Regions from separate parts of the Homo sapiens genome. Here region 2 is linked to region 1. Evidence: fine-mapped expression QTL. A gene starts in region 1. The other region holds a variant in brackets. All regions are shown on one strand. Distances are between the middles of the regions.

The links. PIP is the estimated chance that this variant, and not a neighbour inherited with it, causes the effect. A credible set is the group of variants that fine-mapping cannot tell apart.
Region 2: its variant is the best candidate, but not a certain one, in a credible set for the expression of TARBP1 in whole blood (TOPMed, PIP 0.58).

What each region holds. Positions count from the first base shown.
Region 1 is chr1:234,476,212-234,481,591 of GRCh38, forward strand. TARBP1 (tRNA guanosine 2 -O-methyltransferase TARBP1) reads right to left here and starts at 2,968. Exons shown (of 30, transcript NM_005646.4): 1 at 1,962-2,968. The coding sequence starts at 2,892. RefSeq lists silencers at 2,065-2,864, 2,895-3,084.
Region 2 is chr1:234,411,947-234,417,326 of GRCh38, forward strand. All of the region lies in intron 22 of TARBP1 (tRNA guanosine 2 -O-methyltransferase TARBP1), which reads right to left. Among named protein-coding and RNA genes, the nearest start is that of COA6-AS1, 41 kb to the left of the region's middle. The variant G/A (reference allele first, on the strand shown) is at 3,017.

The DNA of each region.
Region 1 (5,380 bases):
TGGAAATGAGAGAAAAACATGATGGCAGACATAAAGGAGCATTTGATGGAATTATCAGACAAACAAGACCTTAAAAAAATCCTATTTCAGGAAACTGCTAGAGAATGCACTGCACTGACACAAGTGAGTAAAGCAAAAAAGAGGAAGATATGAACTACAGGAAATGAGACTCAACAGAACACCCAGGTGAAGGGAATCCCGGGGTAAGCGTGAGGTCTGTGCACCAGGCACAGGGAGAAACCTGCGACATCTGGGCATGTAAGGGGACTCTGGGAGAAACTTCTTCAGGAAAACCTCTGATGATCTGATTTTGTAGAGGAAAGATTTAGTCAACTGGTTAAGAATTTAAGGAGGAATTCGTGGTAAGTATAGAAAGAACCGAACACATTTTAAAACGTCAAAATCATATGAAAAACTTGCAGGAAGAGAAAAATGATCAGTTTCCTACATAGATCACCTGCAAGCAGCATTTACAGTCATAATTTTATAAATGCTGAACACACATTTAACCAAAATTTTAACTGTGACAATATATTTTATGATATAACTAAGATATACTATGTCAAGACATAGGGGTAAATCCCCTAATATTCCGTTAAGAGGCCACAGGATTTGCTTTCTGTAACAGAGGAAATGGGAGTTGCAGGAAGCATGGAAGCACCATTGCTTATCCCTAAAACTGCAAAATAACTGGCCGAGCGCGGTGGCTCACGCCTGTAATCCCAGCGCTTTGGGAGGCCAAGGCGGGCAGATCACCTGAGGTGAGGAGTTTGAGGCCAGCCTGACCAACACGGTGAAACCCCGTCTCTATTAAAAATACAAAATTAGTGGGGCATGGTGGCGCATGCCTGTAATCCCAGCTACTCTGGAGGCTGAGGCAGGAGAACCGCTTGAACCCGGGAAGTGCAGGTTGCGGTGAGCGGAGATTGTGCCATTGCATTCCAGCCTGGGCAACAAGACCGAAACTCCATAAAACAAACAAACAAACAAACAAAACTGCAAAATAACAGACTCATGTAAATAAATGAATGTTTTAATTTTTGATGATTTAAAAAATGTTTTCCAGTGAAAACTCTCAGGGATGATCACACCTATCTGTGGACTGTTCAAATATTTACTCTCTAATGTTTTAAAATTACTTGAAAATATAACCTCATAACTTCAGCCAAACAAAAATCCTTTACCTGTAATAAATGGTCAGCTACCGTTGAAAAAGTAGAAATATTCTATTGAGACAATTTTGAGTCAATCTACTTTGTACTTGACAGTTTAAACCCAAATTTAACATGAGTGAAGTCAAACCAATCAACAGTAACGTAACAACTTGAAGGGAGGCCTTGCTGTTTCATTACTCTTGCACATAGTAGGGAGCAAAGCTCAAACAGTTAAAAAATAAAATCTGATTCATTCTATTAAATCAATGGCAAAAATACACTCAAAAGGTCGACTTAAGAAACATGTTTAACAAATATTAGTAAATCCTGTTCCTAATTACCAGGGGAAATTTCAGAAGAGTGTGATGGCCTCTATGACGCTTAATTCTAACACTCAACACTCAATTCACTAATTCACTGGTCAGTACAGATAAATAACAAATAATTTTTCTTTCAACTTGATAGATATCAACCGTTTCTATTGGGTTGAATCTACCATGATATAGTGCAGATTTGGGTCTGTAAAATCTTGCACGGGCTCCATTATCTTCCTAAACTATTCCAGGGGTGCTGTATTCCACCGGCTCTGGGTTAGAACGTTCCCAACCGCAGTGATTTGTGACTTCAAAGAACACCCTCGAGAAGGGGTTCCAAAGGTTTTCAGGCTTTAGGGGAGCAACGCGGAATAACCAAATTCTGCATGGATCGGAGTGACGACCCCGATAAGCTAGTTTTTAGAAGCAGGAAGACTCCCCTCTGGGGCAGCCAAGTAGGTAGCACTAGGCTGGGGGGCAAAGAGGCAGGTACCGTTTCCTTCCTGGGGCCCGCAGGTGCAGTCGGCCCCCAGCTCCGCCGACACCTCCACCGCCCTCTGCAGCAGGTAGCGCGCTCGCTTGCGCGTCAGGGCGTCCGCCTGGCCCAGCCCCGCCTGCACCGTCCTCCAGAAGCGCCAGCAGCGCCGGGCGTCCGGGCCCGCCTCGCGCGCGCCGCGGGCGCGGTCGCCGCCGGGCTCGGGCAACAGCTTCTCGGCCAGGGCGCTCAGGACCAGCAGCTTCTCCTCTACGCGGCCGGACCCCAGGGACGCCCCAGGCGCGGCCAGCCCGCCCCACACGGCCCGCAGCGCCGCCCCGCCACATTGGACCAGCACTGGCAGCAGTCGCCCGGCCACCAGCGCCGCCGCGTCCTCGGCAGGCCCGGCCTCATCCCCGTCCCCGCCCCCGCCCAGCGCCAGGGCGACGGCGGTCCCCGCCACGCGCTCCAGTAGCGGCCCGTCCTCGCGGGGCCGCAAACATGGCCCGACGGCTGCTAGCACTTCCACGGCAGCCTCGGCGCCAGGCGCGCGCCACCCGGCGAGCAGATCGCGCAGCGCCTCCTCAGCCAGCGCGGCCGCCAGCTGCGGACGCCCGGCCAGGCGGACGCACGAGCGCAGGGCCGCGCCCGCCGCCCTCAGCACGCGCCGGCGGTGGCGAGGCTGCAGACTGGGGTCCGGGCCGCCCGCGGGGCGTCCGCGCAGGCTCCGCAGCAGTGGCACGAGGTACCCTGCAGCCACCTCGCGCGCCGCCTCCGGGAGCGCGCCTGCGCCCCCGCTGCCGCGCGCCTCCTCGTCCTCGAGCCGCTGCAGAAGGAAGCGCAGCGTCTCCACGCGCTCCGCGGATGCCTCCCCTTGGCACAGCGCCCCAAGCAGGGCCCGGGGGTCCCGGCTCTGCGAGAGCAGCGCTTCCGCGAGCACCCACTCCATTTGCCGAGCGCCCGCGCCACCGGCCCGGGCTCCCAAAGGAAGGCGCCGGCGTGTGCGATGCGTGCGCACAGGACCGGCCGGCCCCTACGTGCGCGTGCGCCGACGGAGCCGGGCGCGCGGCCGCAGAGAGGGGGATCCCAGCCCGGCTTGGTGCAGCTCAGCTTCCCTTGGGTTCCTGCCACCAACCCTGCCTAGATAGAACCCACCTGGTCTCTTATTTTTAGGAGAAACGAGGCCTTCGTTAAAAGTTAATGTAGTATCTACACCAGCTTCATCGATTCCTGATTGGAGGTTGGTCTGCCCAGGACCCTAAATCAGGCGTGCCTGTGAGCATAAACCAGTTCACAGAAGGTGCACAGCAGAATCACTTTAGATTATTTTCCAAACGTTGCATGATGGGCACCATCCACAAAGAGACTGACACAGTAGGTCTGAAATTGGTTCTGGACATCTGCATTAAAAATAAGTCATGAAAACACAAGAATGATTTAGACGTAAGGCCAGGAGTGAGAAGTGTTACCGGTGGAGGGTGTCCAGGTCCAAGAATTGGACAAAGCGCACAAACAAAGCAAAGACAGAATGAAGCCACAAAAGCAGAGATTTATTGCAAAAGTACACTCCACAGGGTGGGGGCAGACCCAAGCAAGCCGCTCAAGGGGGGCTGGTTACAGAATTTTCTGGGGTTTAAATACCTATAGAGGTTTCAATTGGTTACTTGGTGTACACACTATGTAACTGAAGAGGATAAAATGAAGTTACAAAGTTATTTACTTGGTGTACTCCCTATGTAAATGAAGAGGATATTTCCTGTCATAGCTGAAGTGTTTCTATCTGATTTGGTTCTAGGGAGTTTTTGGATTCCCTGCCTCCAGGCCCTATTCTCCTGCCTTAGAGGTACCTATAGCAATGTGCTAGGATTCAGCTAAAACCAAGATGCCCACGCCAGCCCTCACAGCCAAGTGCCCAAGATGACTCCAGGATGCAGAGCCTCCTGCACAATGCATGTGCTCCCATGTGCAAACTCAAAAATAGTCCCTGTGTCTGTCTTTTCTGTATTTCTGACAGCATCCATTGCTAAATAGAGAAACAGAAAACCTCACCTCGGCATGCATGGTGTGGATTTGGTTCCTGGCTCAATTTGAGACAAACTAGATCAGTGACATAGGGTTTTCTTCGCTACTAAACACAAAGATCTGCCTCTTAGTCAATAGAGAAAACAGGGTCCCAACTTCAAAGAGCTTGACATATAATAACATAATGGATAAGACAAAAATTAGTTATTTAAATTTACAGTTATTTTTATATAAAGTTATCTGACTTTAAGGTTATCTGACATTACACAGGCAAGACTTTTTTCATATTTCAGTCATTCCGTTTTTCATTGACAAAATGCATAAATGTTTCTATTTTAAGCCCTTTTAACATGTCAGTAAATATCAATTACCTTCAACATAAAATGTGCAGAAAACTATTGTTTCTGTCAACATATATCTAACAAATATAAATGGGTAAATGTCTTGAGCACTTAACAAACGAAGATACACAAATGATAAGCACTTGGAAAAGTGTTCAACATCATTAGTCATCAGAGAAATGCAAATTAAACCCACAATGAGGTACCACTTCATACTGATGAGAATGGCTAACATGTAAAAGCTCGAAAACACTAAACGGCAAAGACCAAGGGTGTGGAGCAACTGGAATTCTCATACATTACTGGTGGGCATGAAAACGGTACAGTCACTTTAGAAACTGTTTCTCGTAAAGTTATAATATAGCTGCTTTATGATTCAGCGATTTCACCCCCAGGTAATTACCTAAAATAAATGAAAACATGTTTCAAAAAAAAAAGCTTGCAGAAGAATGTTTTTGACAACATTATTCGTTATAGCCAAAAGCTTATAACAACCTAGTAGGTGTTAGGTAACAACCTACATGTGCATCAAATTGAAGAATGAATAAAAAATTGTGATCTATCTATATAATAATGCTCCCAGCAATAAGACAATGAATTGCTAATCCGCTTTACATGGATAAGTCTCAGAAACAATATGTTAAACAAAGGAAGCCAGTCACAACGTTTACATCCTCGTGATTTCATTTATATGAAATCCAAGAAGAGACAAAAGTAATCTGAAGGATAGAAATGAGAACAGTAGTTGCATATAGGGAGTAGAGATTTGACTAGAATTGGGCACAAGGGAACTTTCTGGGGTGATGAAAATATTTTATGTTGATCAGGGTGTTGTTACACATTTGTCAAGACTCCTTGAACTGAACCCTTAAGATCTATGCATTTCGCTCTGCAGAAAGTTTACCTCAATCAGCCGGGCGCAGTGGCTCACACCTGTAATCCCAGCACTTTGGGAGGCCGAGGCCGGTGGATCATGAGGTCAGGAGATTGAGACCATCCTGGCCAACATGGTGAAACCCCATCTCTACTGAAATACAAAAAAATTAGCTGGGCATGGTGGTGCACGCCTGTAAT
Region 2 (5,380 bases), 64 kb before region 1:
CAGTTACTGAATGTCTTCTACATGACAGTTACTATAGAAACAAGTTCCTGTAACTTAAAAATCTACTGGAGAAGATAAAAATCAAATCAGATTAAAATCCTAACTGTAAGCAGTACTATTTATGTGCTATGAAAACCTAAAATAAGGGGATCTAAATACTTGGGGAGGTAACTTCCTTTAAGAATGACAATATGGGCCTGGGCGCTGTGGCCCATGCCTGTAATCCCAGCACTTTGGGAGGCCGAGGCAGGTGGATCACAATGTCAGGAGTTCGATATCAGCCTGGCCAATATGGTAAAACCATGTCTCTACTAAAAATACAAAAATTAGCTGGGCATGGTGGTGGGCACCTGTAATTCCAGTTACCTGGGAGGCTGAGGCAGGAGAATCACTTGAACCCAGGAGATGGAGGTTGCAGTGAGCCGAGATCACACCACTGCACTCCAGCCTGGGGGACAGAGACAGACGCCGTCTCAAAAAAAAAAAAAAAGACAATATGGGCCAGGTGCAGTGGCTCATGACCAGCCCAGGCAACATAACAAGACCTCACCTCTATAAAAATTTAAAAATAAATTGGCCAGGTGTGGTGGCAGGTGCTTGTAGTCCCAGCTACTTAGAGGGCTGAGGCAGGAGGATCATTTGAGCCCAGTTGTTCAAAGCTGCAGTGATCTATAATTGCCGGGTGACAGAGCAAGACTCTGTCTCAAAAATAAATAAAGAAGACACATGAACTGAGATGTGAAGGGAGAGAGAGTTATCTAGATAAAGAGAAGAAAGAAGACCATTTTGTGTAAAGGGCACAACATGTGCAATAGCCTGAAACCAAAAGGACTGGTGATAAGCAGGAAAGACTGAAAAGGTCAGTGTGGTACTCAGTTATCTCGGGTGACCCCCGGTCAACCAACCCTCCCTACATATGCCCGATGCAGGCCCCTTCCACCCCAGCAGGGATGGTCATGTGATTTGCTTTGGCTGGTGAACATTAGCAAGCCTGATGCATCCAGAGGTTGGATGAGCACTTGCATGTCAGGACATGACCCGCCTGCGCCCCCTCGACCCCCGACCCGCCGGAAAGCTCATTCTTGGAGAACTGAATATAAAGAGGTCCAGCTACCCTGCTGGAGACACAGAGTGGGAGCGATGCCTAGCCACCAGAGCTGCTCCTGCCATTGCAGCTGAGGTGACAAATATGTGAGCGAAGGAGCCATTTGGAAGTCCCAGCCCCAGCAGACACCACAAGGAGCAAAACTGCCCAGCCAGGCCCAGACAACACACACATCACGAAAAAAAAGCAGTGGCTCACGCCTGTAATCCCAGCACTTTGGGAGGCCAAGGCGACATGGTGAAACCCCATCTGTACTAAAAATACAAAAATTATTTAGCTGGGTGTGGTGGCATGCACCTGTAATCCCAGCTACTCGGGAGGCTGAAGCAGGAGAATCGCTTGAACCCGGGAGGCAGAGGTTGCAGTGAGCCGAGATTGTGCCATTGCACTCTAGCTTGGGCGACAAGAACGAAACTCCATTGCAAAAACAAAACAAAACACATTGTTTACACCGCTAAGCTTTGGAGAGTTCTAGCAACGGAAAACAGACAATCAGTGTGCCTAGGTAGTGAATTGAGAATAGACCACACAGAGAGACTAGAGAGGAAAGAGGCCTAAGATCACGCAAGCCTTACGGGATACTCCGAGGAGCATAGTCTTCATCCTGAGACGACGTAAGACACTGTGTTCAGCAGGTGGGGTCACCTGTTGAAATTCTCACCATGGAAACCCTGCCTGGGCTTCAGGGTGGAAAGCAGATGGAAACAGAGCCAAGAGTGGATGTAGGCAGCCCAGTGAGGGAACCACTGCAAGGATGACAGTAGCGTCGACTGAGATACAATGGCAGGGACAGAAGAGAGAGAACTCAGAAATATTCAGGCAGAAAGATCAGGACCTGGTCACGAATCAGACACAGAGCATGGAAAGTGTCAAGGTTTCTGGTTTGTGCAACTGTATAGATGGTGGTGGTATTCACTAGAGTAGGAAGCAGATCAAGTTTGAGGGGAAAAATAAGGCACTCAGTGTTACACATCTACGTTTTAGGTTATTTAGTCTAAGGGAAAATCATCTACAAGGAAAACGTCTACAGCAAGGGTCAGAAAACTTGTTCTGTAAAGGGCCAAGCAATACACAAAAACATGGCTTTGTGGGCCACGCAGTCTCTGCTGCAACTGTTCAACTCTGCCACGTTAGCACAAACACAGCCACAGACAATATGAAAATGCATGGACATGGCTGTGTTCCAATATAACTCTGCCAGCCCAAATTTGGCTGTAGCTTGCCAACTCCTGATCTAGAGTCAGGGGAAGATGTGTGGCATACAAATACTAATGAGTAAGTCATTCACATTAGGTAATATGTGAATCCACAACACAGATAAGACTGACTATAAAAATAAGAAATTAATAATAATAAAAAAAGCCTAGCTCTAGAGAAGCACCACCATTTAAGAGGTAGGCAGGGAAAGAAAAGCCTGGAAAGGACACAGAAAAGAGGGCAGGAGGAACCAGAGAAGTGTGTGTCACTAGAAGCAAGAATAAGAAAATGGTCAGCAGCATGCATGTGGCTGACAGAAGAAGACAAAGGCTGACCACTGACTCGTCAGTCAGTCACTCTTGACTCCTGCAACAGTGTCTTCTGAGAAGTAACTGAACTGGAAGCTGGTCTACCATGGATTCAAGAGTGGGTTGGGAAGGATGTGAAAAAATAAGGCTGGGCGCGGTGGCTCATGCCTGTAATCCCAGCACTTAGGGAGGCCGAAGCGGGCAGATCACCTGAGGTCAGGAGTTCAAGACCAGCCTGGCCAACATGGTAAAACCCATCTCTACTAAAAATACAAAAATTAGCCGGGCATGGTGGTGCACACCTGTAGTCCCAGCTACTCAGGAGGCTGAGGCAGGAGAATTGCTTAAAGCTGGGAGGCGGAGGTTGCAGTGAGCCAATATCGCACCACTGCACTCCAGTCTGGGC[G/A]ACAGAGCGAGACTCTGTCTCAAAAAAATTAATAAAATTAGTAAATTAAAAAAAAACTAAACCTCTGGAACACAGGCACCTCTTTCAGGAAGTCTGATGATGAAATAGTAGAGAGCCAGGGTGATTATAGGAGAGGGACGAGAAAACATCCAGTGTAAATATCCACAGAAAATGGATGCAACTCGAGCCTGTTGAAAAGCCAATGGGACCATTTGGCTAAGGAGAGACTGAGGATAGAAGACAGGCTGATAGCAACAAATGCCTGAGAAGACAGGAGGGAAGAGGGCCAAAGACTCAGTGGAAGAATTACTCTGGCACTGGAGAAGATTCTACTCCTTTATGGTAAAAGGAAGAAATCTCAGATGGATACTGACATAGGCAGATTTGTCTGATTGCTCTAGAGAAGATTTAGGTATTCCTAGGTGGCAACTGTTATTTTCTCTAAAAAAATAAAGGTTAAGGTAATTTGCTTTGAATAAAGGAGGAAAAGGGTGTAGTGGACAACTGCCCCTTTCTTTGATATCTATCCTGAATCCCCTTCCAAGTTTAGGGAATTCTTCCATCTTATGAGTGTTGGGGGACACTGAAAAATGCCAGGTATTCATCTTCCCAGCCTCCTTGCCACTAACAAGAAGGCACCTGACCCGGTTCCAAAGACTCCATTTCTGATTCCTAAATTGAGAACTTACAACTTAGAGAAGCAGAGCTCACAGAAAACCCTCCTCCACTGCAGGCAGCAGAGACAGTAGGTATACAGCTGGCTATAGCAAAGCCCTGCTGAAGGCACCGTGTGTCCAGTGGGGTAATGTCCCCAGTGAACTAGCTCTCTCTGGCCTGCCTGTGGTTGCATTTCTGGAAGCCACTGAGCCTCCCCTGTTCCTGCCAATTTTCCAGTTCTGATTCTGTAGCTTTCCCGGTGTTCTGTAAGCTACCTACTACTCCCCTCTTCCCCACTACCTTTTTTGAATCCCATTTTGATTCCATCAGCAAAAGCTTCCTTTGCCTACATCAAAAACTCTGTCTGATGTCCACAGGTAAAATCAGATTCGAAGAGAATATACAAGGTCTAATGACGAGTGAGAGGCTGAGCTAAGCAAATAAAAGTAACAACTGGCACTACTGTGGATGGGAGCACCAGGAAGTTTTGGGGGTACACCAGAACCAACCTGCCCTTTGTGAGAATTCCTGGGGCAGTGCTAACCCATTTGAGAGGTGACATAAACAAACTACATTAATAAAGCTATGGATCTAAAAGGCAACTCAAGGAAAAATAACAGAATCTGTTTCTTCATTATAGGAACACGAAGATGAAAAAGAAGAGCCAGAGGAGCCTGGAAAGAGATGAAAATTTTTGAGACGGAGTCTCACTTTGATGCCATCTGGAGTGCAGTGGCGTGATCCTGGCTCATTGCAACCTCCACCTCCCTGGGTTCAAGCTATTCTCCTGCCTCAGCCTCCCAAGTAGCTGGGACCACAGGTGTGCACCACCCCACCTGGCTAATTTCTGTATTTTTAGTAGAGACGGGGTTTCACCATGTTGGCCAGGCTGGTCTCAAACTCCTGACCTCAAGTAATTCTCCCGCCTCAGCCTCTAAAACTGTTGGGATTATAGGCATGAGCCGCCACTCCTGGCCAAAGCATTGTCATTTCTTAGTGGTGTGACGACTCACTTAATCGTTGTTTTCTTCATAAGGGTAAAAACTCCAACCTGTCTTTGAGGATTATGGTGAGGCTGCTGTTTCTGCTGCTTATGGTGACACCCAGGTTTTAAGCTAGGAGACTGGGAGAATGAAAGACATCAGAAAGGGGAGCCAATTTCAGGGCCAGATGCTGTTACCAGTTTAGTTTAACACAGGGTGAAGTTTGAAGTGATTATGGAAAGGCCCTGCAGGTGGCTGGAGAAGCAGGGACCGGCCGAGATGGGCTTTACTATGCTAAGGAAGTGCAGAAAGAGAAGCAGACAGGCTAACCAGCGACTCTTCAGATAAAACCAAGCATAAGGGTTGGGAGAGGGAAGCAAGTATGTGAAGGAAATAGAGAAGTTATCAGCACAATAGGAAGGGAATTATGAAGTTGACTGCAGTGTGAGGATCAGCTGTGGAGAAAGCCACTACCAATGCGAAGGCGTGAAATTAAAGTGGGGAGCATGGAGGAAAAGAGAAAGGCTGTCTGCAGCTCAGATAAAATCCTTGATGTATCACTGTTGAAAATGGAGTGGACCTCAGTGATTTGAGGAAGGCAAAGATCACACATTGAAGTTTAACAGTAAAGAAAGGAAGACACTGGATGATAGCTGGGTGGAGGAAAAGTCAACAGAACAAGCGTGAAGAATTCAGTGAGGTCCCAAAGGAGACACAAACAGGT